Regions from separate parts of the Homo sapiens genome. Here all the other regions are linked to region 3. The links come from fine-mapping of genetic effects on gene expression. A gene starts in region 3. Each other region holds a variant in brackets. All regions are shown on one strand. Distances are from middle to middle.

Evidence for each region. PIP is the estimated chance that this variant, and not a neighbour inherited with it, causes the effect.
Region 1: its variant is fine-mapped to the expression of PLAAT1 in whole blood (INTERVAL, PIP above 0.99).
Region 2: its variant is fine-mapped to the expression of PLAAT1 in anterior cingulate cortex (GTEx, PIP 0.99).

What each region holds. Positions count from the first base shown.
Region 1 is chr3:193,397,088-193,407,822 of GRCh38, forward strand. It overlaps ATP13A4 (ATPase 13A4), which reads right to left. Exons shown (of 30, transcript NM_032279.4): 29 at 10,226-10,306; 30 at 1,880-5,777. The coding sequence ends at 5,565. Among named protein-coding and RNA genes, the nearest start is that of ATP13A5, 24 kb to the left of the region's middle. The variant C/T (reference allele first, on the strand shown) is at 5,850.
Region 2 is chr3:193,129,067-193,139,801 of GRCh38, forward strand. No RefSeq gene overlaps it. Among named protein-coding and RNA genes, the nearest start is that of PLAAT1, 110 kb to the right of the region's middle. The variant C/CCA (reference allele first, on the strand shown) is at 5,281.
Region 3 is chr3:193,236,490-193,247,224 of GRCh38, forward strand. PLAAT1 (phospholipase A and acyltransferase 1) reads left to right here and starts at 4,733. Exons shown (of 4, transcript NM_020386.5): 1 at 4,733-5,044. MGC2889 (a long non-coding RNA gene) reads left to right here and starts at 5,290. Exons shown (of 1, transcript NR_026877.1): 1 at 5,290-7,483. LOC105374280 (a long non-coding RNA gene) reads right to left here and starts at 4,534. Exons shown (of 3, transcript XR_924833.3): 1 at 4,406-4,534; 2 at 3,261-3,356; 3 at 179-2,045. RefSeq lists a silencer at 4,635-4,884.

The DNA.
Region 1 (10,735 bases), 160 kb after region 3:
AGAAAAAATAGAAGAAAGATCTCAGTCAGGGAGACTACTTAAGAGGCTCTTGTAATCAGGCAGGTGGTGACAACCAAGGGCTTAGAGGAGAGGAAGTTCTGCACAAGAGACACTGCCAAGAGAGGGTCTAGGACTTAGGAATTGCTTGTAGCAGGCCCAGGTGGGACTTTTCATTGCATATATGTGTTTGTAATTACAAAGGTAAAAGCCATCATTTACCCACAAAACTTCCTCGATATGATGCAAAACCATCACCCTGGGCTTGCAGCACAATATGAATGGTGCCTCCTAGGACTGTACAGTGTGAAATACGTACAACACATGTGAGACCTCTCTGCAGTGTAACCCCCTTTAACCACAATTTTAAACTCAGCAGAATGTCCACGGTAAGTATGTGTGCAGCCTTTATCACAGGTCAGTGACTTATCAGATTTTTCTTGGCATTGAAACACTTCGAAGTCAAGACAGCAAGGAAAAGAGCTGGGAGAGTCTGGATGACTCTTTGAGTGCTTTTCATCCAACCATGGACAATGCTCTGCAGCATCCTGCATTCTTTTCCCTGACAGATTAGCTAATTTAATTAGCAGAATCTGGCTAGATGTGAAAAATGTAAAGAACCTTGATTTGGAAGTCAGTAGGTCTAGATTATAGACTCAGCTCATTCATTTCCCCATTATGGGTTCTTGAACAAGTAGTACTCGTTCAGCCTTGGTCATCTGAAGGGTGGCACAGGCATTATGCAGAAAACAAACCACGGTAGTAGAGCAAGAGCAACATTAGACAGAGTGGTCAGGGAAGGCTTCTTGGAAGAAGTGACAAGTGAGCTGAAATCTGAAGGAGAAGGAATCAGGAATGGCAACAGGGGGTTGGTGGCGGGCAGCATTCAAGGCAGAGAGGATGGCAAATGCAGTCTTCCTGAGGATAGAGCAAGCTCAGAGTGTTTGACAAAGCCATGTGGCTCACTCCTAAGGCTCTTTCATCAACTCCGGGAGAGTTGTGTTTTGTTGTTAATTTTATCTTTGTTTAATTTTGGAGAAACTCACTTTACTAATAAAGTTTAAAGGCCATTGTTAACAAGTCTAATGGAAACCAAAGGGCAGACAGAATGTTATAGGGCAGCAGTTTTCCAAATGTTTATGCATAGAGAAGTGAGCACAGTTCAAAGCCAAAAGAAAATCTATAGGAACCTGAAAAGCTGTGCCAAGCAAGTCTGAATAAAGATCAAGCAGGGATATAGTTTTCTGTTTCTGGAGACTGAAGTCAGAAACCAGAGCTTTATCCAATCACATGAAATGGGCTCACAGGGCTCTGGTGTTATGATTTTCCTCCCTCAGCTGTGGGAGTTGGCCTTTTCTGTGATTGATGGTCAGGTTCAAGAGAACTTCCATGAAACACCAAAATCTCTTTCTGGAAGAAACTGTGCTCATTATGGCAATTACATTGGACATTTGCCTCGCTGTCGTCTTGTTTTTCAATGCTACGGTTTTTCTCTTCTTTTTTCATTCAGGAAAAACAACATAGGAGAGTGACACAGCAGGGATCTCGCTGATAAAGGACCTGCATCTGAATCCAGCTCCTCCATCCATGGGCCATGTGTCCTGGTTGCTGAGACATCTGGAGAGCCTTGTACCTCATCAAAAGAAGAGAGACAGTAATCCTTGCCTTTCTTTCCTCCTAAGGTTGTTAACGAGGCTTAAATGAGAGAACAAGGATGAAAGTATTTTGTAAACTCTAATGCCCTGTGTATAAAGCAGAGAATAATAGCATCTGTGGTGTTAGAAAATGCCTGGAACTTTGTAAAGATGTTGTTTGATTCAACATTACTGGAGTAAACCACACCATTAGACAGAATGAAAGACTCCACCGCAGAGAGAGAGACTGATTTTTATAACAACTGAATTTATTATAGCATAAACTAAATACAAAGCTCTGAATAAATAATCGTTTTTTTCAGTCATCACATCTGCAGGTGTGTATGTGAACATTTCCATAAGCACATAAGGATACAGATGTCACAGACATATTTAGTGAGGGAAGCCCAGAGTCACGGTTCTCTGTGGGTAAGAGCTAGATGCCTTGAGATGAACATACAGGGCACCGTCTCAAATGATTTGGACTATGTGACTGTGTTCGTTTCTCCTTCAGACTCTGCTCAAGAAAGTGTATTGATAACAGGTTGCTCCGCCCTCAAGTTTAGGGCACTCTCCCACGCTCTTTCATGCAAAGTTTTTTAACACCTCTCTTTAAGAAAATTCACAAATCAGAAGTATTACCCCAGCTTCAATCTGACAATCAGGACCCCTACTCTGCCCCTCTTTCCTAGGATCTTATCTCCATTAGGGGTCCCCTTTCAAGGTACAGGGCAATTGAGTCTATATGTCCACACAATCGGATCTGACAAGGCTGGGAGCCCTCCCTCCAGAGCCCATCCTCCCATGAGTGTCTGTCTGGTATTCTGTGTGGGTAGTAGTAGAAAATAGTTCACATCTGGTGGCTCATGTCTGTAATCCCGGCACTTTGGGAGGCCGAGGCGGGCGGATCACGAGGTCAGGAGATTGAAACCACCCTGGCTAACATGATGAAACCCCATCTCTACTAAAAATACAAAAAATTAGCCGGGCATGGTGGCAGACCTGTAGTCCCAGCTACTTGGGAGGCTGAGGCAGGAGAATGGTGTGAATCCGGGAGGCGGAGCTGGCAGTGAGCCGAGATTGTGCCACTGCACTCTAGCCTGGGCAACAGAGTGAGACTCCATCTCAAAAAAAAAAAAAAAAAAAAAAGGTTCACATCACAGCATAAGACTGAGACACTGGGTGTATCAAGCTTGAAAGAGATCTTGCAGGTAATTGAGTTTCATCTGATACTTGACTTCCTTCTCTACTTGGCCCTTGAATAGCCACTTGTTCCTCCAATGTCCTAGAGTACATTCCACTGCTATCAGTGCTGGCTGTTAGGACAGTGGTTAGGGCAGATGGCCTGAAGCCATCCCCACTGTGATCTTTACCCATTTGTCCTGATTTTGCCTTCTCATGCCACCTGGCACAAGTAGGATCCTTCTTTCTCAGGAAAACCCTTCACAGTCCCCTGACTGTTTTCTTTCCAGGCTGGGCACTCCCTGTTCCTTCAATTACTGCTTCTAAGATGTAGTTAATCCCAGGAATACAGTCTTCAAAATGAGTCTCTTTTCCCAAAGATTTTATGGCTGCTTGACTAGTGGAGGACTAGATTCTTTTCTTCCTGTTCCCTGCCAGCCTTTGCTAGTGATAGAATCACTTAGGATCAAGGCAAGAGCAACTCAAAGTCTCAGAAAGACAGACAATCATTTTTTTGTTTTGTTTTGTTTTGTTTTTAATACACCTCTAGCCCAGGCCTGGCAGGATGCCTGGCATTCATTTGAACAGAGGGCCTGGTATTAGCAAAGGGTTGCCCATTCTTTGCTTGACTGTGAGATCACACTAAGCAACCTGCCCTGCTGGAACTCTGGAATTTGGAAGTATTTGGCAGCAATATAAGGTTTGCTCAGAAGATCTGTATTTGAGGCCTAGATCTGCTCTTGCCATTACTGAATCTCAGCTTTCTCATCTGTATGGTGGAGATGATAAGCCCTTCCTTGTTCAGTCATGGGACAATTGGTACCATTCAGGTGAGTTAGTGGAGGTGAATGCACTTAGCAAAGGGCACATTTAAGTATGAACTGTGCAGGCTGATCTTGCTCATGACTAGGTCACAGACCATCTCTAGCTTGCCCCTGCCTACAACCCTCTACTTTTGGAAAATGAGAAACACTTTTAGAGAAGGACATTCAGAACTGCCATATCATTGCTGAGGCTGGCTTTGCAAAAGGAAACATTTCTTTCTGTACCAAAAAAGACAGTGATTCTGCAGTCTTGAAACACTAAAATATCTTCACGCCCTATTTTAAAACCAGAAGTAACAGGGTACCCTCATGGCTGGGAGACACCATGTTCCTAGAATCAGCTGCAATCATAGAGCCATCAGCCATGCTCAAGAGCTCAGTTAGGGGGAAGGAATGCTTGCAAATGCTATTGATAAGTTCCAAAGCCAGCCTGGGCCAGGACACTTATCCCCTGATCAGAACATTCACCTAGGATTTGATGCTCATAATACAAATTTTGCTTTTGCCTTAAAATATTATATGTAGGTGTGCTCCTAGAGTTCAGTGTTGTCTCCTGAGGTAACAGAAACCTGAGTCTTCCTTGTGCTGAACAAATCAAATATAACCAAATTGTAATAGTGACAAAATAAGGACAATTTTAGTTTTCTGGAAACTCAAGCCACAAACTTTAAAAAAAAAATGTACTAGTTGTGTAAGAACTCCCATCAATAGTGCCATATAATGCTGTAGCATGAGACTAATGTTTCTCAAAAATAATAAAGCAGAGGAGTGAAAATTTCTGGAGTTGGCCATGTGACATGAGAGATTCCTAAAACATAGGATAAGTTACTGGGGTTAGGAAAAGTGGGCTGTAGTGGACAGCACTCGTGCTTTCTGATCTGTTATTTTCCTCTCCTTCCCAGGACTACGTTCCAGACCAACTCTATCATTTGTGGGGCCTGGTACAAAATGAAAATATGGGGACCCCTGTTCAAAAATTAAGAATTTTAAGATGGAAACAGCAGAGTGTTAAAGCCAAGTGTGGGGACCTTCTAAGCATGGGGCCCTGTGTAGTGACAGCTCATAAGCCCATGAAGCATCCCTAAACACAGGAGACTGCACTTTCCAGCTCCCTGGCCAAATCCTTGACTAATGAGATATGAGTAGGGAAAGCAATGTGTGCCACTTTTGGGGTGAGGCAGTGAAGAGCCCACACGTGATCTCCAGTCTATTCCTTCCCCCATCACAGTCAACACACAGTCCTTGCATCGAGCTGATGGAGCCATCAGGTTGAAGCAGTCACTGCTGTAAGAATGGCAGTTCCAGAGTGTCACCTGGATCACGAAAGAAGCACTTGTGTGTTAAGGCACTGATATCTGAGAGTTGTTTTTTATTGCAGCATAGGCTAAGCTTATCCTTAACAATATGTTGGGTAAGGCCAGAAACAGAAGAAAAAGCCTCAAATCTGAAAAGTACTACAGAGAAAAGGAACCCAGACAGTAAAGATTGGTGTAATGTTTCCCACGCATTAGTTTTTCCATCGATGAAGTAAAAATTCAAAAATTACAACTCCGTGAGTATACACAGTACTACTTCCCCTCAACTCATTTTTATAAAAAGGAAAGTATTGTCCTGTCCTAAGAGGAAAGATCACATATTTTTCCCCTTTAGCCTGCTTGTCTCTTGGCCCATAGAAATTCTTGGCCCATTCTTGCCTTCACTGAATGCCTCTAATACCTTCAGAAGCCAAGAGGAAAGCACTCTTCTGGGTCAATGTTCTTCTCTGTAGACAGTATTTTATCAAACAGACTTTAGTTTGTCACCATGATTTGATAGGTAGCCCCAAAACTCCAGCTGATGTTACAAGAGTCTCATTTCTTAAAATCAATGAAACTGGTCCCTTTTGTCATTGTTTCTCTGTAATATCAACTTGGATATCACATGTCCTTCAGAGTTGTTCTTCATTGCTCTCAAATACTGGATTGCTGTAAGACACTCCTCTGCCACACTCCGGCATGTCAGAGTGGGAGGTTTGGTTTAGCGGGGGCCAACTAGGGTCATTTGCCAAGTCCCTCTGCCATATCCGATACTGGCTTTTTGACTGATAGCCGAAACATCTTTTAATCATCATCCACAGGGCTCGATTTTCAATAACAGCCTCCTGCAAAATAAAATAATTACTTTTTACAAGCAAGGGTTGAGTGTTTTGAGGCTACAGCCCTCCACAGGCCAT[C/T]ATAAGTCACTACTGCAATGGTTGCTTAGATCCAGCTTGACAAAGAGCTTGACCACTGGACCAATCTAAGGTGGTTTCATTGGACAGGTATTGGTTTCTCAAACGTTTCTACTTAAGTAACTCCTGTGGGAGAAGTAAGAGGTACAACATTTCAAGACTCTGGGAACATAACTTGAAATGGCTTGCCTCAAAAATGAAGTTTCTTTTGAATCTCACATCTAAATTGAATTTAAAATCATTCAAATTCTATGTTTCACTCTATAGCACATCTATATTTTGTTTAATATAAAATGACATTAAAATTACTACTAAATACTAAACACAATTGACCCTATATAAAGATGTGGCCCATGTATGACATGTTTTTGATATATCCTGACATATCACTGCATATTTAATTTCACACGGGCCAGTCTTGGAGTTGAACAGATCTGGATTTAGGTCCCAGTTCTGACACCTATTATGGGCAAATTAGTTACTCTATCCATGTCTCCGTGATTAGAATAATCCCTTCCTTATGTTTGTTGTAAGGCTTATATAACTCCCTTTACAATGCAGGGCAGGGCAGGGCATAGCTCTCTCCCTTTGCCTACCCTTTGGAACTACTCATTTAACAAATGGCTATGCACTGTGGTCCTGTTCACACATGCCTCTAACCTTCACCTTCACTGAAATACAGTATTAAGATTACAAAAGACATGTCTCTTTGAAAACATTTTGCAATGCCATTTTATTTCATGAGTTAGAGTGAGCCTTGAATAGAGCCCAAGTTATAACTTATAATTCATGAGAGGTTATCATATTAATTTTCCACTTTTATCATGTTTGCTCACAAAGATTGACCATCTTAGAGGTTATTGTGAAAGAAACAAAGAAAAAATATGGGACGTGAAACTGTCCCACAGAATTAGAACTGATTTTCATGTCTATCTTTGCTAATTTGAAAGAGTTAATTCTGTGAGATTCTATAAGGAACTTTGCCAGATATAGTAGTTTTCCTAAAATCTACCCATTTTTGCCATTTAGGTTCCACTGCCCATGAAAGGATAGAGAACAGCCAGTCTGCATTATTCCTGTGATAACTGACCATCTGCTGGCTGCGGGGCTGTTAAAGATCCATATAACCGTCTCAGCCTCTTGGAAACTTAGCCAGATGAGTTATTCTACTTTCCTGCAGCAAGGTTTTTTTGTCCTCCTTAATTGACGTGAAAACAGTAGTTCTTCTTAGAGCTGGGATAAGGCAGGAGCATCGAGTAAAGGTTTTAAAATCTTACTTACTTCAAGGAAACCTTAGCAAACCTTAAAACAAAATAGATGAAACCACACACACACACACACAGAGAGAGAAACTTTGGTGCTCTCCATCTCTACATCTTGCCTTCAGTGTTTTTTAGTTCTGGACTCTGATGACCTGTATCACCTTGCTGCTCTGGAAGAGGAAACTACAGAGAGGTGATCTGTCCTGTTACCGCACATTATAAATACAAGGCAGAACTAGTGACATGATCTGAATTTGTATTTCCATCCAAATCTCGTGCTGAAATATAATCCCCAATGTTGCAGGAAGGGCTGGATGGGAGGTGACTGGGTCGTAGGGATGGATTTCCTTCTTGCTGTTTTCGTGATAGTGAGTGAGTTCTCATGAGATCTGATTGTTTAAAAGTGTGTAGCACCTTCCCCTTCTCTCTCTTCCTCCTGCTCGGGCCATGTAAGACCTGCCTGCTTCCCCTTTGCTTTCCGCCATGATTGAAAGTTTCTTGGGGCCTCTCCAGCCATGCTTCTGGTACAGCCTGCAAAACCATGAGCCAATTAAACCTCTTTCCTTCATAAATTACCCCGTTTCAGGTATTTGTTCACAGCAGTGGGAGAATGGACTAAAATACAACTAGAAAAAAACGAAAGCCTTAGTGAGACATTTCTTTAAAAAAATTTCGCCACATGAGCGCTTCTGACTGGCTACTCAAATAACTCATACATACAAGCATACCTATATAAACACATCAATAATTGTTTTAAAGGTGGGGGCAATTAAAGCTATCCACACTACCTCTCATGCCTCTCAGCTGGAGGTTCGATCATGAGCACTGGCATAGTAAGGATAAGGTCCTGCTCAAACCTGTTTGTTTTCAGGGCTGATCAGAGATTAGATAAGTGGAATAATTTGCCCAAAGTCAGAGAGCAAGAAAGTGGTGGAGCCAGGATTCGAACCCACCCACGTAGATTACCCCGAGCTTGTGCTCTTAACTGCAAATATGCTGAAAAAGGAAGAACTTCCTGCTAGAGGATTAAGGAAGACTTTGATACTTCATTACCATACAGCCCATTCCCTCCCAACTCTTCCCTTCCCACCTAAAAGGGAAAAATAATGATAATAAGTGGTCTAAGCCAAATTGTCTAACTTTTGACATGGATCCACTTTCCCAGAATCTTTTTCTACTCATGATGACCATGAGACACAAGTGTAATCGATAAAGCATAAAAGGAAGTCTGCTGGTGAGCTTCAGGAAAAGTTTGTTTCTCAAGAAAAGGTTCAGACTTGCTGGAAATAGGCTTGCTGTGGCCTCTCCTTCCATTTTCTTCCTGCACTGAAAACAGATGTAAAGTCCGGCTCTGTGGAAGCTATCTGGACACCATAATCACGTGCACAAACATGAAAGACCACATCGAAGGAGAGTAGAAGAGAAAGGTGAAAGAGTGTGGATTCCCAGTGACACTACTGAGTTACTAAGCCAGTCCTGAAGCCACCTACCTTCAGTCTTCTTCTTGAGTCAATAAACATCTTTATTATTTAAGCCACTGTTAGTTAAGTCGTTACTTGCCTACCTGATCCAGAGATCAGGAAAGATACATGAAGAGGATACTACTACAGCTGTGCTGTAGAGGATGGAATAGCACTTTAATATGCGGAAATGGAGGAAACATACACCACACAGAGAGAATCCTGTGATCACGAACAGGGATAAGATGTATACACTAGATCCCCCTCTAAAGGGCAAAGACCATCATTCTGCCACTGGGTCTGAGGACACCCGTGATAATGCTCTTTTATTAATCTGGTTGCTTTAGAGACCATATGGTTTAGCATATTGCTTCTCAAAGTGTGATCCCTGAACTAGTCTCATCAGAATCCCCTGACAACCTGTTAGAAATGCTAACTTTTGCACTTCTTCCAGGCCTACTGAATCAGACACACTGCGGGTAGGGCTGGGCAACGTGTGTTTTAATAAGCCTCCCAGGTGATTCTGATGCCCACTCAAGTTTGAGAAGCTCTTGTTTAGCATATAGAGAGAAGTTCCAGTACTGAAATTCTGTGTCCTGTTCTGCCACCAGCTCCTGTGCAGCCTTCACTCTGCATAGGAGTAAGCAGGGAGAGCTCATTGAGGTCCTGCCTACACAATACTGCAGGGAAGTCAGGCTGTAGGTTCTCACAGCTCACCATGAACACTCCATTTGCAGGAATAATTCTAGTTCTGTATCCCAGAGCAGAAATAGAGACAGATGGAATTCTGCATCTCACCTCTCCTTTGTTCATAAATGCCTTTTCAGGGCACCCCTGCCTACCAACAGGCTTTGAAGAATGGATATTGTGTCTGGTAGTACTGAGCAGGGAGAGCGTGAATCACGTGGAGAAAGAAAGCAGGAGCACAAGCTCATTTCACTGAGGAAATGGAGCACAGGGGAGCTGAAGAATAAAAGCTAGAAAATGGAGCAAATGGAAGCTGGAGAATGAAAGCCGGAAAAGCTCACTATGAATGTTATTTCCCATCCGCAAGGCAAAAATGATATGAGTTAAGTGAAAGAAGCCACACACAAAAGGCCACATATTGTATGGTTTCACTTATATGAAATGTCCAGAAAAGTCAAATCCACACAGTCAGAAAGTAGAATAGTGATTACCAAGGCCCAGGAGAAGGCAGAAGGGGCAATGAAGAGCAACGGCTAGTAGGTACAGGATTTCTTTAGCGATGATGAAAATGTCCTGCAATTAAGTAGCGTTAATGGCTGTACAACTCAGTGAGTGCACTAAACACTACTGAATTGTGGACTTTAAAAGGGTGAATGTTATGGTGCGTGAATCATATCTCAATTTTAAAAAGTAAATTGTGTTGGGTCTTTATTTGGAAATTGTAGAAATGAACAGGACCTTAGAGACCATAATTCCATTCTCCCCCGCCCTACTTGACAGATGAGAAAACTAACGTCCTGCTTGGGACTCATCAGAGGAAGGCACCATTGCTTATACTGTGAAGGAAGGGAGCCCCTGCACTGCTGAGTCCATGTCAGCTAAAGTTGTTGTTTTCAGAGTCCCAAAGAAGTCCCCCTACACACATGCGTGCACACACACAAGATCAGCAGCCCAAGATCAGCACACTTACCTCGGCCACAAGGGACACAATGAAATTCAAGCTGAGCATGATGACAATGGAGGCCCTCCACAGGACGGGAGTGCAGAGCAGCTGGCGGGAGATGATGAAGCACAGTTAGTCTGAAGACACGCAGATGCTGGAAACATGCTCACATGTTCACAGCATATATTTTCCTAGGTTATAAATCTCATATGTAATATATATGTGTGTATATTACATATATCTTATATATATAAAAAATTTCTATGCTTGTATGCACAGAAAAAGTACGGAAAGGTTATACTTATGATCCTAATGATTTGGGGGGGTTATGAGTGTTGCTTTTCTTCTTTTATCTTTTTTTCTTCTTGTGATGTGTGTGTGTTTCTCTATGATTTCTAAATTTCCTAAAATAACTTTGGTCACTTTGCAATTAGAAAAGAAGAGGAAAATCACTCTTTGTTTGCTTGCTTTGTTTTGTTTTCAAAAGGGAGGCAGGAATGTGGCTTTATCCCCAGGAGGCCTGATGGTACCCATGTC
Region 2 (10,735 bases), 110 kb before region 3:
GGTGGTTTCCTGCACCTATCAACCCGTCATCTAGCTATTAAACCCTGCATGCTTTAGGTATTTGTTCTCTCCCTCCACTTGTTCCCCACCCCACTAGAGGCCCCGTTGTATGAAGTTCCCCTCCCTGTGTCCATGTGTTCTCATTGTTCAACTCCCACTTATGAGTGAGAACATGTGGTGTTTGGTTTTCTGTTGCTGTGTTCCTTTGCTGAGAATGATAAGCCCGGATAATATTCTTACAAGCATCCCCTTATTAAATTTTTTATGTATATGGAATGATTATCTTTTTCTGCAGTTTAAAGTCATAGTAGTTCTAGCAGGTAAGTTATTTTTTCTCTATGCCTCAGTTTCCTTAACACAGCATGATGACATTTCCAGATAATTTCTAAGGTTCCCTGAAATATAGCATTCTAAGAGTCTATATATTAGCAAAACATAATTGCACAAGCATGGGAAAGGTTACAGTGATCATCAGTCCTAACTGTTCACAGGTTTCTCCTATTCAGCTATAATTCATTATTCGCCATTTTAGAGCTTCTTGCTAGTCCTCTTAAAAATCACATAATGCAATACAAATACCCATAATATAAATTTTGTTGGAGAAATATCAAGGACTTTGACTTTCTCCTTCAGGAGAGAAAGCTAAGCGACCAAGAGACCAATGAATCATATTTAATTGCAAAAATAAAAAAAAGAGCGAGATGAATTCTAAGTAGCAAAGGTGATCTCGCCCTCTTCTGGACAAAAGCCACAGAGGTGCTGGGAAGCAGGTTAGGCAAGACAAAGAAGGGAAACCAATTTTAGAGGAAAGATTTTCGAAAATGAGGATGTGGGGGTATTAGCTAAAAATAATGGAAGATAATAAGTACAGGCTGTTCCTTAGCACACAGAAATCAGACAATTAAGGGCCATATCTGTATTCTTTCCCTGATGCCTATGAGGGTCATAAAGCTTGAATGGCAGCTAGTAACATTCTTAGGAGGATAGGGTAATGTCCAAAGCAACTTTTTCTTCAACTGTAATACTTTTGTGCAGGTGGACTCAAGTTAAAGGGAACAATGAGAACAAAAGGAGTCATAAGAGGTGGTAAGTCTGAGAGACCACTGGGTTGTGAAAGCTGTAAGGTCTCAGACTGCATGACATTCACATACCCAACACCTCACAAGAACTCAGTCCATAACACAGTAGATGCTCTGAATGAATGAATGAATGAATGAATGAATGATTAATCTCAAGCAATTTGCCTTGAAGAGGTAGACGGAAGGATGGGCTGCAGTGATATTATGGGTGATGAATGAATGAGCTGGATTTCAGGTTATGTGCTGGAAGGACTATTTCTATCTTAGCCACATGCATGGGTTACCACCCATTGATCAGCAGTGTGGAGTGGGAGGCAAAGGTGGAAAGAGAAGTAACGCAAAGCTTGTTGCTTGATGATTGTGATTGTTCTTCATCCCCTAGTCTTGGGCATTCACTGGCTACTTTCCCAAAACAATCTGTCAAACAAATTAGACTCTGGGAGAAATTCAATAATGCTAAATATTCAATGGTAACTCTAATAAAATATTTGTCTTAAATTTAAGCCAAAAGTCCTTCAGAAATTTAGTATCTCCTTCCAGCTGGAGCCAAACAGTCATAAGACTTCCCATAATAAGTGAGCCCTCTGTCTGCCCGAGGAAATTCACCCATTATACGCATGGGATAGTCACGTGATGCTGTACTGTATTCCTCCTTTGTGAGTTTGTTTCCATTTTTTCCTTTCGGATATGAGGAAGTAAGCCTAGTCTAGGATCCTAAAGACTGGAGTCTTGCTGTTTATTAGTTGTGTATCCTTAGGTAAATCTCCAAGTTTTCTAATTTGTTAAACAAACATAACAGATTATTGTGGGAATTAAATTTTCTAAAAACTCTGCAAAGTCATTCCATAAAAATTGGGGTGTAATTCTAACAAATGACCTAAAAGACCCTTCTGTCATAGCCTGTGCTTATCTCTTCAGTCTCCTCTTGTGTTTCTCTCCCTTTGCTCATTCACTTCCTGTTACACAGGCCTTCTTTCTAGTGCTCAAATATCAACCTCTCTCCCACATCGGGACTGAAATGCTTTCCCCCTAACACCCTCTGCTTTCTCTTTCCCATCTTGCTCTCAGCTCATATAACATCTTTTATTCAAAGAAGGTTTTTCTATTCACCCCACCAAATGTTTCACACTGGTACATTTCATTCCTACCACCAACTGGTCATAGACCACCACATTATCCTGTTTTATTTTCTTGGTACTAATTATCACCATTTGAATTTATTCTAATTTGTTTGCTTACTTGTTCTTTAGTTGTCTCCCTCCAACTAATAATATAAACACGAATACAGCAGAGACCTTATACCACTTGTACCTAAAATAATGTCTGGCAGGTACATTGTAGATGGTGAATAAACATTTGAATTAAAGTAGCAAATCCATGAATTAAAATATTTGAATGACAAGAATTTATAAACTGTGAAGTGCTATACACATGTAAGGTGGTATTTACTTCTGTGGAGAGGTTGCTATAAGTGAAACAACAGGGGGAAGAATGCCAGATTTGAATTTTAAATTGGCTATTTTTCGTAGGACAAGTCATTCCTTTGCTTCTATGTACATTGGTTCTCTCACCTGAAAAGTGAGAAAAAATGATATTTATCTCATAGACTATTTTGATACTGAGATTTAATACAGGCAAAATCACTGTGAACGTTAAAAATTGCTCATGTAAGTTTTAGCCATTCTCCTACATATGATCCTAAGCTTTGGAAATGGGGAAATTCTTAATATCTTCTTTATTTCAAAAGAGCAAGAGTTTTGGGTGACATTGGTGCAAAATTGTGAAGGGAGTTTATTGTACCCAAACTTTCCCCCAAATCATTAAACTTCTGTGGTCCATGGCTTCATTTGCATTAGGTACATACATCTGTATGTCCTAATTAGAATCATTGGCAAGAATCTTCAGGAAGGAGTTTAGCCTTTTGCCCTCAAGAAAGAAGTTAATTCTTTCCAAAACAGCCACCTCATTTTTTATGCTGCAGAAGACAGGTAGCAAAGGCATTAATGTTGCTTAAGGATATCAGACTAAGTAGTCGGATTAACATCAATTTACAAATAAAGCAGGATAAGCCATTTTAAATAAGGTGCATTATATTTTATTTAGCAACAACTCTTTGCCTCTTCTATGTGTGTGTGATGACAACCATTCTAATGCTTTCACAAAGAAGCCTGCCTGAAAAGGAAGAAAAAAAGGATGAGTGTGCCCGTACTTGATTTGAGTGTGTGTGCTGTGCTTCTGTGTTGAAATCCAGATGTGCTTCACAGGCTACACAAATCCATTCCAAATGTTCGGCCTCATCCTTTGACTCTAGGGGAAACTTAGTGCTTGATTGACTCACTACCCTCCAGCACAAGACTTAGAAGCAGGAAGTCTGGTTTAGGTAGTGAGTCTGACATTTATGACCCATGTGGGACCTTAGGCTACCATTTTTATTCCCTTAGCTTTAAATCCCTCTGCTGCAAAATGAAGATAAAATTGACATCTGCCCCATGGGTAGGGATGGGAGGAAATAATGTGGGGGAAAACACTTTGTAAAAGGTGAAGTGCCATGTAAATGCCTCACATTCTAAATCTTGCCCTCTTCCGGCTTGAACCTTCTGCCTCAAGGAATTATCATGCTGCTTCCCTAGGCAGATGGGTTTGCTGCACTCAAGGACCTGAGTGCTCCTAGGGAAGGGAAATACATGGCACAGGTGCAGCTTTCCTTATTCCTGAGCCCCACAGTCAGCATTGCTAATTGATCACTACACTTTTTCCTACCAAGTCTGGACCCAATCTCAAAATCCCTCTCATAACATTCCAGGAGCTACCATCAATTGTTGGAGTAGGCATGGGAGGATAAAGCTGATTGGCCATCTCTGTTAAGCCTCTAAGACCTGTGACCAAAGGATCCCACACTCTCTCCTCCATCGTCCAGATTGAGGACACACGGATCGCAGCACAGTGCCTAGAGATGACATCCAGCAGTGGCAGAACCACTTCACAGTCAACACACATGTACACAGAGCAGAGCTAGCTCAAGCATTCATCTGTTAAATCTGAGTTAATTTCATAGTGGAAAAAAAAGCAAATGTTCAGGGAATGTTGGCAACAGTACAATTTATGATGAATCAAATTGCCTGAAGAGATGTGGAAAAGGGTTTTGGAAAGAACAAAGACTCTGGGACTGAGCAGCGAATGTCAAGTTAGCTATGTAACTGTTGGGTGTGTGTACATCATGTAACTGGATCAATCCCTTAATTGCTCTGTTTTTCTATCAAACAGGATAATTAGAAGACATTTTGATTCTCAGTTGAATCAATTCTTACCTTAGGCTTTGAGAATTGTGTCTTACAGGGAACCTCAGATGTTAATACTGAAATATTTTCTTTCTTAGTTCCTGAAGGAAGGGTTTAGTTTCATCTTGTAAGTGTGCCACAGGTCCTGCCTTGGAAATCCAGATATCAGATAGCAGTCTTAAATGAACACAAGTTGACCTTCACATCTCAAACTTCCTCACATGCAAATAGAGGCCCATTTCTTTTATTCAGTCCTGGTGTAAGTTTTCCAGGCATGAGGTGACCCGATGTATTATTTTATCAACAGCAAAGCAATCTCATTTCATGAGAACTGCACCTGCCCATTACTCAACCTGTATGAAGGAAACCGCTCTGCTTTGTGTCATCAGGGATATGACAAAAGGAAGACTTCTGTAAAACATGTTTTCTTAAGAAGAAGAAAATGTATTTTATATGCAGAAATATAACAAAAATCCCACATCTTCACCAGTCTAATTTGGCAAGAGGTAATTTACAATTTTCATGTTAATAATTTCTTTTAAGTTATAAAAGCTTAAAAGCTCATAATAGATAATGTGAAGAAAAAAAGTGGCAAATATTTTAATTTTTCTGACCCTAAAGATTGTTGTTTTTATTTGCTTTAAAGTGTTGGCTTTAGGGCTTAACTGAAGAAATGCATCTTAAGAAAAATGGATCTTTATTTTGGACAAGGGAGATTATAGCTCCTTTTATTACCTGCTGACCTTTTATGAGCTATCTTTTATTTTACTGTTGAGTAGTTAATAATACCCTTGTAGTTTAGAAAGCACTTTTAAAAAATTTTATGTATCTCATTTGATCCTCTCATGATAGTTTTAGCAATATAAACACCAATTTTCAAATGAAATATGGAGATTCCGGTGGTTTAAGGCACTTGACCAAGG[C/CCA]CATAGCTCGAAAGTGAAAAAAAATAGGGCTGAACCTAGGTAAATGAATTTCTAGAATGATGTTCTTTACTGCCACACACTCTATGACTTAAAACAGGGATTATGTTTTCTGTGAAGCCTAAACTAAAACGGAGGATTTTTACCTAATAGAAATGCCTAGGGCCAGGAGAGTGGGCCAAAAGAAAATCAACATGAGAAATCTGAGAACTAAATATCAGAGAAAACAAATCCATAGGAGCCAAGGATGCCAAGCCTGAGGTCGGGTGAAGGTAATATCAAAACAAAAGCAGCTGGGTATAAATAAGAGGACACCCTAAGCAATTGATTTGCATATCGGCTGTTATTTACAGTGTACCTTGGAAACTTAAAGTTTTGTGATGCTTGAGTAAGTGGATTGGTTCAATGGGCCAGAAGCAAAAATGGCAATGTGTAGTCTTTCCATGTGGATAGGGATACAGTGCCTGACTCTGTCCAGGCTGGACTTCTATTGGTTCTCTGGCTTTGCTGTAATAGGATGAATGACATTTGTAAGAAGCTACACAAGTAAAGGGTTGTCACCAGTGAAGAGTGACAGGAATGACACGTTTTAGTTTGTTGTTGCCATTAATGCAGACTGTCATAACACTTAGATTCTACTTGACATAGAAATGGAAACCGGCCATGTGGGACTGGACGTGTTTAAGAATGAAGGGAGCATGTGTATCACTGGTAGACGACAGAGCCAAGTAGTAAAGTGAGTCATTGCCAAAACACAAAACATAAGGCATGACAGATTCCTGCAGCTGACTCATGAGGAGAGCCAGCCAGAGACCTAACCAATAGAAGATGCCGAAGACTAGGGACCAAGAGTGAGTCTGTTGATCATAATAGTGATTGCTGTAATTTAGTGTATTCTTACTATTAATATGTGTTAGGCATGTTTACAGTGACATAAATATTTTTTCATTAATACTCAAATACTATAAACTGGTTATTTTTAAGGACATTTTTATAGGTAAGAAAACTAGTTCAGAGAGATCAATGAGTTATTTGGGTCAGACAGCTAGCAGGAGGCAAGGCAGGAATGAGCAAGGTGCCTGGTTCTGAAGTCTGTGCACTTGGCCAACATGTTAAACTTTCTTCTCATTACACACAGCAGTTAGACAATAAGTTGAGTTGTCAACTCCCTGGGTACCAGTGACTAGTTAGTTTATATGGTCTTATCAGATTTTATTAATTTTAGAGTGGACTGAGCATCATGGGAGTAGGCAGTTCAATGTTTCAAGCACAGCTCTAAGGAGTAAGCTTTCACAGAGATTTACGGAAGCCATTGCCTATATTTTAATATCCTTTATATTCCTTTCCAGTGCATTTTATTCTATCTACCACAATAATCTACATCTCATGACAAGCAGCTGAGGACACAGAAAAGAGAAAGAGCAAGCCTGTAAATGCAACCTTAAGGGATGGCCAGTTTGAAGATTGCTGTCTTTGGGGGGTCTCATTTTGATCTGTGAATCTTCTTGTGGATGTTTGGCATCATATCCGAAAAAAACATAAATGAATCTTCCTGGTTTTTCTACATTGAAGCCAAGAATATATTGCTTCACTTATGTCCATCAAACCCTAGTATTACAAAAAATGCTAAAGCACTTCTAACTATACCCTCTAAATGGAGACTGTAAAATATTCTGAGACAAAGGGAATTTGAACATTGTTAAGAATGCAGAATTTTATGCTGAAGAACAAAAGGAAGGGAAACATAGGCCAACCCGTTCAAAATCCTCCAAGTTCAGTTTCTAATATAGCTCACTCCATTTCTTTTTGAGTAACTCCAACCTTTCCAATGGAAATGTTATTTGTAATTTAAAAGGATTGTTAGAGCTGAGTCAGTGTTTTAGTATTCGTCAGTGTTTTTGGTTTTAAGCAAGAGAAATTGAATCGATCTGATTTCAGCAGAAAAGGAGCTCATTATACATACAGAGAGAGAGAGAATGGAAGGAGGAATTAAGTCTGATGAGGATGCTGCTGCCATGATGGCCACAGATGACACTGAATACCATCTTCACTGTGGTTACTAGATTCTGGATACAGCCCCTAGACACCCTGCCACTGCTGCCAATAAAATAAATTCTCCCTAAGCCCTGCGTTCTTGCATCACTGGCTCCTGATTCAAATTATCATGTGGGTGAACATGATTGGCTAACCTAGATTGTGTGTTCATATTCTAGCTGCAAAGGAGGCTGGGAAATTTATAATATGCCCTTGTTGGCTTATATAGTCAAAGGCTGGCTCTGCTTCCCTTCAAAATTTATGAGGTAGGAATTCCCCCTGATCATAGGGTTAGAGGAGTTAATATGCTGGTTGGCCAAAAATGTAACATTTTTTTCATATTCCACCTCTTGAGTTTTCCTAATAATATATTTTTTTCAAACTCTGTCACAGCCATGTGTTTTAAAGGCCATTACTTTTTTGTTTATTTATTTCAAGTCTTTAAAAAAAGTTTATGAAGTTCAAAATTATTCTTATACCATTCTTAAAAATCTATTCGAAGACTTTTTCTCTGGGCAGCTAGCATACTCCTAAGGCTGGGTACGTTAGGTTTCCAATCCAATAAGCTTTATTTTAGTTTTTGGGCCAAAAGGACTCATTTATACTTAGTTCAATCAGTCAGAAAAATCCATGCTTGCTAAAAAGGAAGGGAAAATCAAGCAAATGCAATTGACAGGACATCAAGATCTAAACAAATATCTACCACATAGATATCCTTTTATTTTGAATTGCAGTTCTCTGGCAACAAATGGTCCAAATATAAACAATTTAGTAGAAATTCTAGAAAGAAATTGCTTAGAATAGCAGGGACTTCATGCTCTTAAACAAGCCCTAAAAGAATCAGAACATGCCCTTCTTTGTTCAATTCCATGAAATCTGTTTAGAATCAAGCTGATGATCAAATCTCTTCAAAAGAGAACCCTGGGCATATCTATAGGTTGACATGGAAAACTCTTTCTCCTATGGAGTTAAAATGAATATATGCATATGTGTATATGTGTGTAAATGTAATTTTTTTTAGCAGAAATATTCATGTTCATTATTTTTAGATGTTGGCCATGCAGTATTTCTCATATATAAGACCAACAGATGGCTGAGTTAGGATCTAGTTGGTGAAATTTATTGGTCAAAATTTACAGTTGCGGTAGTGGATTGAACACACTCATCTATCTCCACTCTCTCCTGAAACCCAATTTAATAAGAAAAGACAGCAAAGAAAAAAAACTTAAAGTTTAAACCTAAACAGACAAATAGAATTGGAAAGAAGGCAACGATAGCTAAATTTGAGGTATCTAGAAAGCACAAGGATGAGTTTCTGACTTAGAAAGGCAGAAAAAGCTGAAACATAAATCAGAATGGATTGAGTAAATGAACAGGAAGCCGGTCTATTCACACTGCAAAACTCTAAGACGTTTCTATTGTGAGAGATGCTAGGAATTTTTGAAGACAGAGGTACAGATTTGGGCTAGAAAAAGATTGGTTGAAAGTCTTCATAAAGGATATTTAGAAACCAACATATACTTACCCTTCCTTGTTAGAATACTGGAGGTTTTCCTTTCAAAGATGACAGAACATACAGGCTCTAGGCTCAGAGACACCAAGTTTAACAAAGGACAAGTGTGAGCAGGGTACCCTTTAAATAAGAGCATGAAGGGTGAATAGGCACAGCGACTGTGAACATCCGTCCTCTTTCTGGATGATGGAGAAGTGGCTTAGATACGTGTGGAACATGGTAATCAGTATATCATAGTCACTGACGCTGGTAATAGTACTAGAGCAGGGTCCCAGTAGACCTACTGGCTCCCAGCTATACTTGCTATTGCTAGACAGTGATGAAATGGGGGGCCTGGGGCTTCTGTTGTGTGTGTCAATATTTTGAAAACTGCAATGGTCATAGCATTGAATACATGGTGAATAGCAACCCTAGTTATACCTCCAGGAAGATAAAATGGAAAATTGTTGTGGGTTAATGGATTGGCCTAATAGAAAAGAACCCAGATCCTGACATTTGAGGTTCCTAACAAAATGGCAAAATTCCTGCCTGATCACATTACAGTGAAGCCTACCAGGCAATAAATATTCTCTTCATGTTCATCACTTCCAATCTGTATTTTTGATGATGATGATGATAATTATTATTATTATATGAATGGCCAAAAATATCTAGGGATTAAAGAAAAGCCTACATTTGTATTTAAATAACCTATAGCAAAAGGGAAATGAGGAAAGAGAAACAGTTTAAAAAATGAAAGGAGACACTTTAAAAGCTGACTTCATATTCTCAGAGATATTTATTCACTCAAAAAAATTTGTGAAACATGGTGACAAATTCTATTCTAGTATTAGAATTATAACATTTAACAAAATAGACAAATATACTTCCTTATGGAGTTTATATAATGTATACTCCACTGTGCTAATTGTATATACTATAGACAACATACTAGAACCATGTTGCATAGCAATAAGAACAATGAAGAAAATACAGGAAAGGAAGGAAATGGAGAGTGATGGGGCAGATGACAGTGGTTACGGAGAGCTATTTTATACAGTGTACTAGGAAAGGCTGGAGTAACCAACATATAAATGATATTTAAAGCTATGGAAGTAAATAAGACTACATAAGAAGAAAATGTGGGTAGAGAAAAGAAGAGATCTGAGGGCCGAGTCTTGAGTACATCAACATTCAGAGAGTGAAAGAAGCAGAGGAGATGGATGAGAGATTGCATCCAGGAAAAAAAAGGAAGTTCTAAAAAAGGAATACAGAGAGTATAAGAAAGAACATTTGTGAATTAAAATTTGATAGCAGAAATAAAAAATTCAAAAGAGAGTTGAGAGACAAAGTTAAGTAAGTCTCTCAGAGAGGAGAACAAAAAGAAATGTAAAATGTGGAGGAAAGATCAGAAATGTAAAATATCACATTAGTGGTTTCATTGTCCAAATGACAGGCGTTTCAGGAAAAACAAACATAAAATGGAGGAGAGGAAATTAAGACAAGATTATGCAATGAATTTCCCAGAAGAAAGAATGCAAGTTTGTGGATTGAAGGGGTCTTCTGAGTTCCCAACACTATATATATACATAGGCATACACACAGACACACACACACAAACACACACACACACACACACACACACACACATATATATATATTTCTCGAGGCTGAGCTAATGAAAAGCTCAGGAATTAGAATGGCATTAAACATTTCAAAAATAAACTGGGATATAAAAGAAAATAGAGCAATGTCCTTTAAATTCTGAGGGAAACTAAATTTTGTATGCAGCTAAACTATCCATCAAGGGTAAGAAGACAAATAAAGATTATACATCTTCAGATATGTAAGACCTCAAAAATATTACCTTCCCCACAATGTTACTGGAATATTTGTTCCAGCAAAATGGGAACATAACTGTGAAAGAGGAAG
Region 3 (10,735 bases):
CAACCCAAACACAGACCATTTCCAAGTTATTAAAGTTTAGAATAAGATTTGAGAAAGAATCCAGGACTTGGCAATGGAAGAGAATGTGGGCATAATAGTACTCATTGAGATTGATGTAAGGATTAAACGAGATGAGATGTATGTTTTAATAAAAGAATGCCATATGAATATGCCTTTATGAAATAGCATTACTTCTTTATTTTATTAGAGTATCAGTCTGTGGTTAAATAAACACTTCAGATATTTGTAGGCGATTCTTTCCCCCAAATATCATCATGCTCTTTGCTTTCACAATCATTATACGTTACGAAACACTGATAAGAAACATATTTAAATACCCAGGAATAATCAGTTTGGAAAAAACTGGGGGCATTCTCTCCTAACATCCAAGAAATATCTTTCTTTGCACACATGGAAAATCTACTAGAGAGTTTTTGACTATGGCTACAAATGTGTGGGAAAGGGAAATGCTGATGACTTTTCAAGGCTTTCCTGACTAAAAAATCTGACACTGTAAAAAAAGGACACTGTATTCTGAAAGGTACAAGTACATATAAATAAATAAACATGTTTTTTTTTTCTCAGTAATATCTGAGACTTCTGAATTCCTCTGTAATTACATTTAGCAGGGGAAAAACAACCTCATCCATGCCTGTGCATAGCAGCTCCCAGCAATCTGTCGGCTTTTCACAGCATAGTAACCCACTGATCGCTGTCTTAGCTCTTCAATAAATACCGCAGGCCGTGTGTGTGTGCTTACAGAACTTCACAGGTTTCCATGGATACATGAATTTTAGTGCTAAAGCACATTTACTATCACTTTTCTTGTCACCAAGAATCCTGTAAACACTTGTGCTTTAAGCTTTTGTGCAGAAATTTAGCATTTCGTAGAGGACAAGTCAGAATTACCTTTTTCCAAATGCATTGTATGATTTTCCTGTAGGGCGAAATCCCCAAAATCATTGATATTTGTGGCCTGTTTTTAGTCATGCACTTTTATTTATTAAACCAATAAAAGATAATAAAGGTTTAACTACATTGTCAGTACCACTTTTAAATGACAGAAATGTATACTATTTAAATGTTACAATTAATAAATGAGATAACTTCCTCTGAATTTAAAATGCAAAGAGAGAAATAGGAAATGCAGAAGTAGGAATATTATGTTGATATTTAGCCACTTCCTAAATATGGTGAAATTTAAGAATAATTTTCAAGTATATTTTTGTGTCATACCCATAGCTTAAATTTAATCTTTCTTTTTTTTTTTTTTTTTTTTTTTTTTGAGACGGAGTCCCGCTGTTTAGCCCAGGCCGGATTGCAGTGGCGCAATCTCGGCTCACTGCAAGCTCCGCCTCCCAGGTTCACGCCATTCTCCTGCCTCAGCCTCCCGAGTAGCTGGGACTACAGGCGCCCGCCACCGCGCCCGGCTAATTTTTTGTATTTTTAGTAGAGACGGGGTTTCACCGTGTTAGCCAAGATGGTCTCGATCTCCTGACCTTGTGATCCGCCCGCCTCGGCCTCCCAAAGTGCTGGGATTACAGGCGTGAGCCACCGCGCCCAGCCAATTTAATCTTTCTTATACATACTAAGCTTTTTGGATATTTAAAAGACCTTTTCACAAATCTGTGAAGATGGCAGGCTATGTTACTATTTTTCCTGTTTCGTATATATATAAGCTGAGGCTCAGAGGTTTAACAAACATGCTTCTTATCATACAGCTAGCAAATGGTAGAACCAGGCTTAGAACCCAAGACTCATGACTCATTGCCTTTCCATTGTCTTTTTTTTTCTGAGAAGAATGCAGGCAACTCTTTATATAGAAGACATAGCTATGTTCTTCCTTCCTTGCCACATGCTGATAGATTCCCATGTCTCTGGTGTAGCCTCCATTACATTATTCTTTTCTTCATTCGTCCCTTGACTGCTCCACAGACTTGACTTAGCCTAATTTACCAAGCTTAGTCATTTCAGATGAATATAATCATCAGGAAGCAGCAGTTGCAGAGACATTACCTAGCTTGGATGTGCAGTACGTGAAAAACCTGTAAGCAAACAGATTTTCAGTTGCAATGATATTGACCAGAAATACACAAAGCAGATTGAATTAGAGGGTTAAGTAATTTGTACAGGAAAAAAATCCAGTCTGAGCAGGCAGGTGGCCTGGACATTCAAGTCAAGAAAAAAGCTTTTACTTTTACAGCATAGATTTTAGGGGCTGAGGTTGGAACTATTGGAATGATTGTCTCAACTCTTACTAGCTCACATAAAACGTAGCCAACCATCTCTGCATTATCTTGGCAAATATTTCAGTTATTTGTGCAGCTCTTTTATTTTTGTGGTTTTGAAAACCTATTAAAAAAAAGGTTTTTCTTTTGCTGTCTGATAAAAGAGGGAGTCTGGGTAGGGGAAGAGCTCTTGCCTAAGAGGCCTGACTTCAGTTCTACCCCAGGAGAACTGGAATACAGAGCTCCACATCTCAGGCCTCACACCAACTGCCAGGACTGAGCAGTCACAAGTTTGCTGAGAGGATCAAATGAGACAACAGAATCAAAGCGCTTTGCTAATTGTAAAATATGCACAAAACATATAGGGTTGTTTGAGGCCTCTGTCTAATATCACACAATGCCAATTGGTTTGAGTTTCCATGTGTTAAAAAGCCAATTGTAATTTTTGTTACCTTATAGGGCTTTTTCTGGAATGTGAACTTTATTCACTCAACAACAAACAGGACTAAGTCATCTCCATTATGCTTTTTTCAATATGTTTCAACTCTTACTATAAAATTAGGCAGCAACAGAGAATGCCAGCCACACAGGGCTTCACTTATAATGGCCAAAATAATAGGAACTGTTTATTTAAGTGTAATTTAACATCTGCTCCAATCATAGCCCCAGATTACAACTCTAGATTAAGACAAACTTTGCCTATTACTGCCCAAGGCTAAGTCCTCATTCTTTCTTAATGGAAATTTTAATTTTCCACTGCTCATCCGTAGAGTACCACCGATTGATCAACTCTCTCTCCAATCCATAGAAATGAAGAGAGAACTCAGGGCTCTCCTGAACTACAACGCTTTCTACATTTCTCCTATAAATTCCACGCAGGCATTGAATTGAATTTGTTCTTAACCAAATGCGTTTTATCTATACCTGGCAGGAATCTAGAAGTGAAATTACAAGATTTATTTCATTTTAATTCTATTATGAAGCATTTAATCACAAATACCCTGAAAATGAAAAGATAATTTATCATTTTACCTTGACTGAGCAACTCTCCTCACTTCACATTCATGAATCCATAACGCAGAGAGGAGACTGGATGATTAAGTGTTTGATTAGAGAAAACAGATTAACCTAGCAAACATAATAAATTTGGCTCATAAGCAGGATGGCTTTATAAATGCTCACAATACCTCTCCTGTATAAAATCATGAACCACTTCCTACAGTGATGACTCCATCGAAATAGTTGAGAAACATAAAGCAAATGCATGTTTATGGCTTTCTCTTTGAGACATTAAAAGGGTATTGAAAGGCATATCTGATTCAGCTTATAACTCTGGATATATATTAAGGAACATGTAAGAAAATATTAATGCATAAAAAAAGCTACAACTTCTCAAGTGTTCTAGTTTCCACTTTGTCAATAATTACGTTTTCAATGTCCTTCTGTGGACTGTTTCCAAAGGTGCCAATCCAGACCCAAAGTTTCAGATCACTCAGATTCACCCTTAACCTTCATAACACAACCCAATAGCTTTACGAAAAAAGTTGCATATTTAGGTAGTTGTTATCCCATTATGACAAAATACATAAAATTAGCGAGATATTTTTTAGCCTTCAAATAAGTGGGAAAAAATCCTTTTAGCTGAGATTCCATTTACATCAGAATAAAAATCTAAGTTATGACTAGGTTGAAGCAACGTCCTGTGCAGCGCTCCATAAAGTTCACTTAGTCTTCAAGGGTTCCTTACTTAGCTAGGTTAGTATTCCTGGCCTCTTTTTTTAGCAGTGAGAAAAAGGATACTCTCCCTGCCCCAGCTTTATTTTTAAACTCACAGCCATATCCTGGAGGTCTCTGCTGGCTATTTGGCGCGTGGGGGCGGAGGGGGGCCGGGGGAGGGGGGCGGGGCGGGGTCTGGAGGTCTGTGCTGGCTATCTGGCGTGTGTGTGTGTGTGTGTGTGTGTGTGTGTGGTTGGAGGTCTCTGCTGGCTATCTGGCGTGTGTGTGTGTGTGGTGTGGTGTGTGTAAGCAGTGAGGTTGTTTTAGGGCCAGTCCTTCCTCCGCCACTTTGCTGACTCAAAGACCCAGAGGCTTTCTTGGGGTGCAGGTACCATGATTCCTTGGGCCCTAAGGGAATTTTTGTTAGGCTAGAAGAGTGGGTGTACTCATGATGGGTGTACCCGAACATTCCTGGGCTCAACAAAACCGATTATCTTTATAACCGCGGCGCCTAGCACAGCGCCTGGTGCCCTAAACGTTGGCTGCGGGAACGTCCGAGACGCGGGTGCGGAGCCGGGGGCGGAATAACTGGTTGCGCGGCGCTTTGACCGTAGGCGCTGGAGCGCGTGCGTTGCGTGCGCGCGCGGAGGCGGCTGCGTCGGGGCGCGAGAAGGTGCAGTTCCCCGGCGGGCGGGCGGGCGGGCGGGCGAAGCTGGGCTCGGGGCCAAGCGAGGTCTAGCCGGAGCGACTGTGCCCCGCCTCCTGGGCGGAGCGGGCGGCTCCCCATGGTCAGAGCCTCGTGCCGGCTCGGCAGCGCCCGGACGCCGAGCCCAGCGCGTCGGCCCCCCGGCGTGCGGGCGTCTCAGAGCCGCGGAGGGGCCGCCGGGACCGTTTCAGCGTGGCGGCGCTGGTGCTGGCGTTGGCCCTGGAGGACGGCCCCGAGTGATGGCTGGCGCCTGCCTCCCGGGTGTCTCCCGGGTACAGATGGAGTCGTCCCGCGGCCGCCGGCGGCAAGGTCGGCAGCTGCGAGGCCAAGAGAGACCCCAGGACACACACAGCTGCCTCCCGGTGCGAGAAGAAGACCCCGGCTTGAGAGTGAGGTGTGCTGGGCGGAGTGGGGGAGGACCTCGAGGCGCCCCGGCAACCAACCGTGTTCTAACCAACTGGCAAGTGGGAAAAGTTGACATGACTAGAGAACAACGGAGCTTATCCACCCTCCTCTTTTTCACAGACTGGGGAACTCAGTCCACAGGGCAAGAGACTTTCTTCCCTAGGTTACACAGCTATTAAGTGGCAGAGCTGGGACTAGAAACCCAACCTGTTTAAGGCTTTTTAAGCCTACTGTCCTCACTGAAGTGAATATGAATAATAATACAAGTAATTATTATCGTATTGGATTTTGGAAAGTTGGATGGTGATATTCCTTTGGCATGCGAGACTATTAATATGACTCGTGCTGGAAAAAGTCACTCATGTTTTCTCTGGGCTTGGATTCCTCATTCCTTCATTCAATGAACATTTGCTCCGCAGTTACTTGTGCGAGGCACTCTCACCGGAGACTGAAGGTATAGAGCAAGCTTGTCCAACCCGTGGCTCACTAACCGCGTGCGGCCCAGGACAGCTTTGAATGCCGCCCAACACAAATTTGTAAATGTTCTTAAAACATTATGAGAGGTTTTTTTTTTGCGCTTTTTTTTTTTTTCTCATCAGCTATCATTAGAGTTAGTGTATTTTATGTGTGGCCCAAGACAGTTCTCCCAGTGTGGCTCAGGGAAGCCAAAAGATCGGACGCATGGTATAGAGAAAAACAAGAAGCATCCCTCCATAGCGTATGCCCCACAAGAGACAATTTCCCAGAGACCAGTAGCTGAGGCAGGTGTAGGAAGTGAATGGGCCATTAGATGGATGCCTGTGGAAGCTAAAGAAGGCGGATCGGAGGAAGACAATCCGACCTGGGGAGTGGAGGAGAGAGGGGGAGAAGGTGGCATCGACTTGGATTTTTTAAGATTGAGTCATTTGGGGCACTTGGAAATGGGCATTCTGGGTAGAAGGTTCAGTATTAACAAAAACAAAACAATACTCTTGAGTGGGAAGAATAATGGATAGTTTGATTTGCCTAGAATGTAGAGATTAATAAGGATGCCAGGATTCTAGGGCGGGGGACCAAGATGGGGAGTCAGTGGTGGGAAGCCCTGGAAGATTCCAAGCAAGGCATGACAGTGCTGTGGCAGCGGATAGTTAATTTGGCCAAGGAGTGGAACCCTCCTTTGTAGCGTGAGAGTGTTGGACCAAGGATCTTTGCAGCACTGAGAGTCTATGAATTAGCCAATCTGGGAATACAGGGCTTCATGGAAACATCACAGTGTAGGAGGATTATGGATGGAAAGTGCAGCTGGAATGGGAAAAGGTCGAAACCTAATTAGAAGCCTTGGGCCAGGGGTAGCCTGTGATCACCTGCGATTGTGTTTCAGACTTCCAGTAACATTCTTGGGAGTAGTTGTTAAAAAAGTGCTCTTCGTGTTTCTGTAACTTGGGTGGCCTCTTAGGCATGAGCAGACGTTCAGCCTGTCCCTATCGGCAGGGAACATTTATTTATTTTGATGCATCCCCAGGGACCAACAGAGAGCTATAAAGACAGCAGCCTGTTTTGCCAGTTGGCCAGTTGAAATGGGAAATTTCTTATACAAAGATTACAGACTTAACCTTCATGCCACTCTTTATTATAAACTGTTCATACAGTTCTTTGCAGATGGACTCAAAATGAAGCATTTTTTTACCTTAAAGATTGTAGTAGAGGATGTTATAAATGTGTCTTTAATTGGTTCTGTGTTTTCTCATACTTATGAAGCACTGCATTACACAATTTGTCTGAATGAAATTGGTAGATGTGGTCCATGTAAAACTTACCCAATCAGACAGGTTACAGATATTTGCCTAAAATCTGAGCCTGGGCACCTTAGAGATATTCTAACCTCACCCGGAAACTCCGCAACTGGAAAGGTGCAGGGATTCTGGAGCGAGGTTCCACTTCACATTATCTTCTGGTTCTGCATATGAATATTTAAAAACTTCCTGTGGTGTTATATGAAATATGTATTTGCATGCTTTTGCAGCTGCTCCATCTAATAGTATTTGAGAAGGGGAAAAAATGAAATGTTGCTTAGTAGAAATTCCTTTGGTTAATGATGTTAATCAATGGTATAAAAAAGGAGCATGAACTCTGGAATAAGAAGGGACACCTGAAATTGAATTCCAGTTGTGTCGCTTACTACCTGTGCGACTTTAGGTCTGGCACTTAACTCATCTGAGTCTCAGTTTCCTCATCTGTAAAATGGTCACCACAATAATCAGCTCGCAGTCTAACAGAACAACCTGTCACCACTAGAATCCCACTTGTTGGCCTTTTATAGCCACACCTACTTCCCTCCCACTGCCTCCTCCACTTCCTTAACTCATAGCAACCACTGTGTGTTCACTATCTTTTTAAATAATTGTATCATTTCAAGAATGTTATAAAAATGGAATGATATAGTGTGTGACCCTTTGGCATTGTGTGTTTTTATTTTTTCCACTAAGTATAATTCTCTAGAGGTACATTCAGGTTGTCGCATATGTCAATAGTTTTTTCCTTTATTCCTAAGTAGTATTCCATGGTAGGCCTGCACACAGTTTTTTATTTTTTAATTTTTTTAACCACCCTTTGAAGGTCATCTTGGTTGTTTCCACTTTTGGGATATGATGAATAAAGCTGCTATAAGCTTTTGTGTGCAGGTTTTTGGGTGGCTATAAATCTTCATTGTCTTTATTCTCAGGGGTAAATGCCTAGAAGTACAGTTGCTGGATTATATAGTAGTTACAAGCTAAACTTTTAAGGAAGTTGCCAGACTGCTTCCAGAGTAGCTACACATTCCCACCAGCAGTGAATGAGTGATCCAGTTAATGACAATGATGACTCTGCATCATTGTCAACATTTGATGTTGTCACTGTTTTTTATTTTAGCTATTCTGTTAGATGTATAATGATATCTCATTTTGTTTTTTTTTTTTAAATTGACAATGATTTATATTTATGGGGTACAACGTGATGTTTTAATCTATCCATACATTATAGAAATAATCAAACTAATGTATTAGTTCATTTTCTGTTATAACAGATTTATAACAGAATGCCAAAAACTAAGTAATTTATAAAGAAAATTAATGTATTTCTTATAGTTATGGAGGCTGAGAAATCCAAGGTCAAGGGACCACTTCTTGTGAGAGCCTTCTTGTTGGTGGAGACTCTGCAGAGTCCCAAGGTGGTACAGAGTATCACATGGTAAGGGGGCTGAGTATGCTACCTTGCTAGCTTAGGTCTCTCTTCCTGTGATAAAGCCACTAGTTCCCTTCCCATGATAATCCTTTAATCCATGAACTCCTTAATCCAGTAATCCATGAATAGATTAATCCATTCATGAGGACAGAGCTCTCCTGATCCAACCACCTCTTCAAGGCCTGCCCCACTTCTCAATACTACCACATTAGACATTCAGTTTCAACATGCATTTTGGAGGAGACAAACATTCAAACCATAGCACATATACATCATCTCACCAATTTATTATTTTTTGTGGTGGTGAGAATGTTAAAAATCTGTTTTAACAGTCTTGAAATATGCAGTACATTATTATGTGTGGTCAACATGCAGTGCAATAAATCACTAAAACCTACTTCTTCAGTCTAACTGAAACTTTTTACCCTTTGATCCACTTCTTCCCTTTCCTCATTTCTCTCTCTTCCCTTTAGCCTCTGGTAATGACCTCTGTACTCTATTTCTATGAGGTCAGCGTTTTTAGATTTCACACGTGAGATCATACTGTATTTCTCTTACGTTTCTGGCTTATTTCACTTAGCACAGTGTTCCTCAGTTCCATCCATGTTGTCACTAATGACGAAATTTCCTTTTTTAAAAGGCTGTATAGTTATTTCAATGTGTATATGTACCACATTTTTATCCGTTTATCCATTAATAGACACTTAGGTTGCTTCTGTATCTTGGCTATTATGAACAATGCTAAAATGAACATGAGGGTGCAGATATCTCTTCAACGTAATGGCTTCAGTTCATTTGGTTATATACCCAGAAGGATGATTTCTGGATCATATGGTAATTCTACTTTTAGTTTTTTAGGAAACTTCCATACTATTTTCCAAAATGGCTAAACCAATTTGCATTCCCACCAACGATATACAAGGGTTTCCTTTTCTCCACATCCTCACCAACACTTCTTATCATTTTTGGTAACAGCCCTTCTAACAAGCATGAGGAGATACCACATTGTGGCTTTAATTTGCATTTCCCTGATGATTAGAGATGTTGAGTATTTTTTCCATCTACCTTTTGGCTATTTGTGTCTCTTCTTTTGTAAAATGTCTGTTTAGATACTTTGCCAAGTTTTTAATTGACTTGTTTTCTTGCTATTGAGTTGTATGGATTCCTTATATATTTTTCATGTTAGCCCCATAGCAAATGTGCAGTTTACAAATGTTTTCTCCCATTTCATGTGCAAGGAGAATCCTAATGTCATCAACAAACAGAAATACACTTCTTCCATTCCTATATGAATGCCTTTTATTTCTTCTTCTTGCCTAATTGCTCTAGCTAGGACTTCCAGACTATGTTGAATAGCTGTGAGAGTGGGAATCACTGTTGTCTTTCTAATCTTACAGGAAAAACTTTCAACTTTTTACCATCGAGCATGATGGTGTCTGTGGGCTTGTCATATATGGCCTTTATTGTGTTAAGGTACATTCTTTCTATGCCTATTTTTTGAGAGTTTTGTAGCGTGAATGGGTGTTGGATTTTGTCAAATGTTTTTTCTGCATCTACTGAGATACTTGTGTGCTTTTTGTCGTTCATTTTGTTAATATGGTATATTTATTTATTAATGTATTTATTTATTTATTTTTGAGACAGAGTCTTACTCTGTCACCCAAGCTGGAGTGCAGTGGTGTGATCTTGACTCACTGCAACCTCCACCCGCATCGAGCTCAAGCTGTCCTCTCACCTCAGCCTCTCAAGTAGTTAGGACCACAGGCACATGCCACCATGTTAGCTTTTGGTATTTTTGTAGAGATGAGGTTTAGCCATGTTTCCTAGGCTGGTCTAGAACTCCTGGGCTCAAGATATCCATCTGCCTCGGCCTCCCAAAGTGCTGGGATTACAAGCATGAGCCACAGTGCCTGGCCCATATTTATTGATTTATATATGTTCACCCATCCTTGCATCCCTGGGATAAGTCCCACTTGATTATGGTGAGTGATCGTTTAAATTTACTGTTGAATGCAGTTTGCTAGTATTTTGTTAAAGATCTTTGCATTTGTGTTCATCAGGGATATTGGCCTGTAGTTTTCTTGGGGTGTTCTTGCCTGGCTTTGGTGTCAGGGTAATACTGGCCTCATAAAATAAGCTCTGAGGTAGTCCCTGTTTTATAATTTTTTGGAAGAGCTTGAGAAGGATTGGTATTTCTTCTTGAGCACTTAATGGGATTCACCTGTGAAGCCATCAGGTCCTGGGCTTTCCTTTGGTGGGAGATTGTTTATTACAATTCAATTTCCTTATTTATTATTGGTCTACTCAGATTTTCTGTTTCTTCCTGATTCAGTCTTGGGTTGCATGTTTCTAGGAATTCATCCATTTCTTCTGTGTTATCCAATTTCTTGGTATTTAGCTGTTCATAGTAGTCTTCTATGATCCTTTGTATTTCTGGGATGTTGAAAGGAGTTAGTTAGCTTGCTTTAGGCAGACAGTA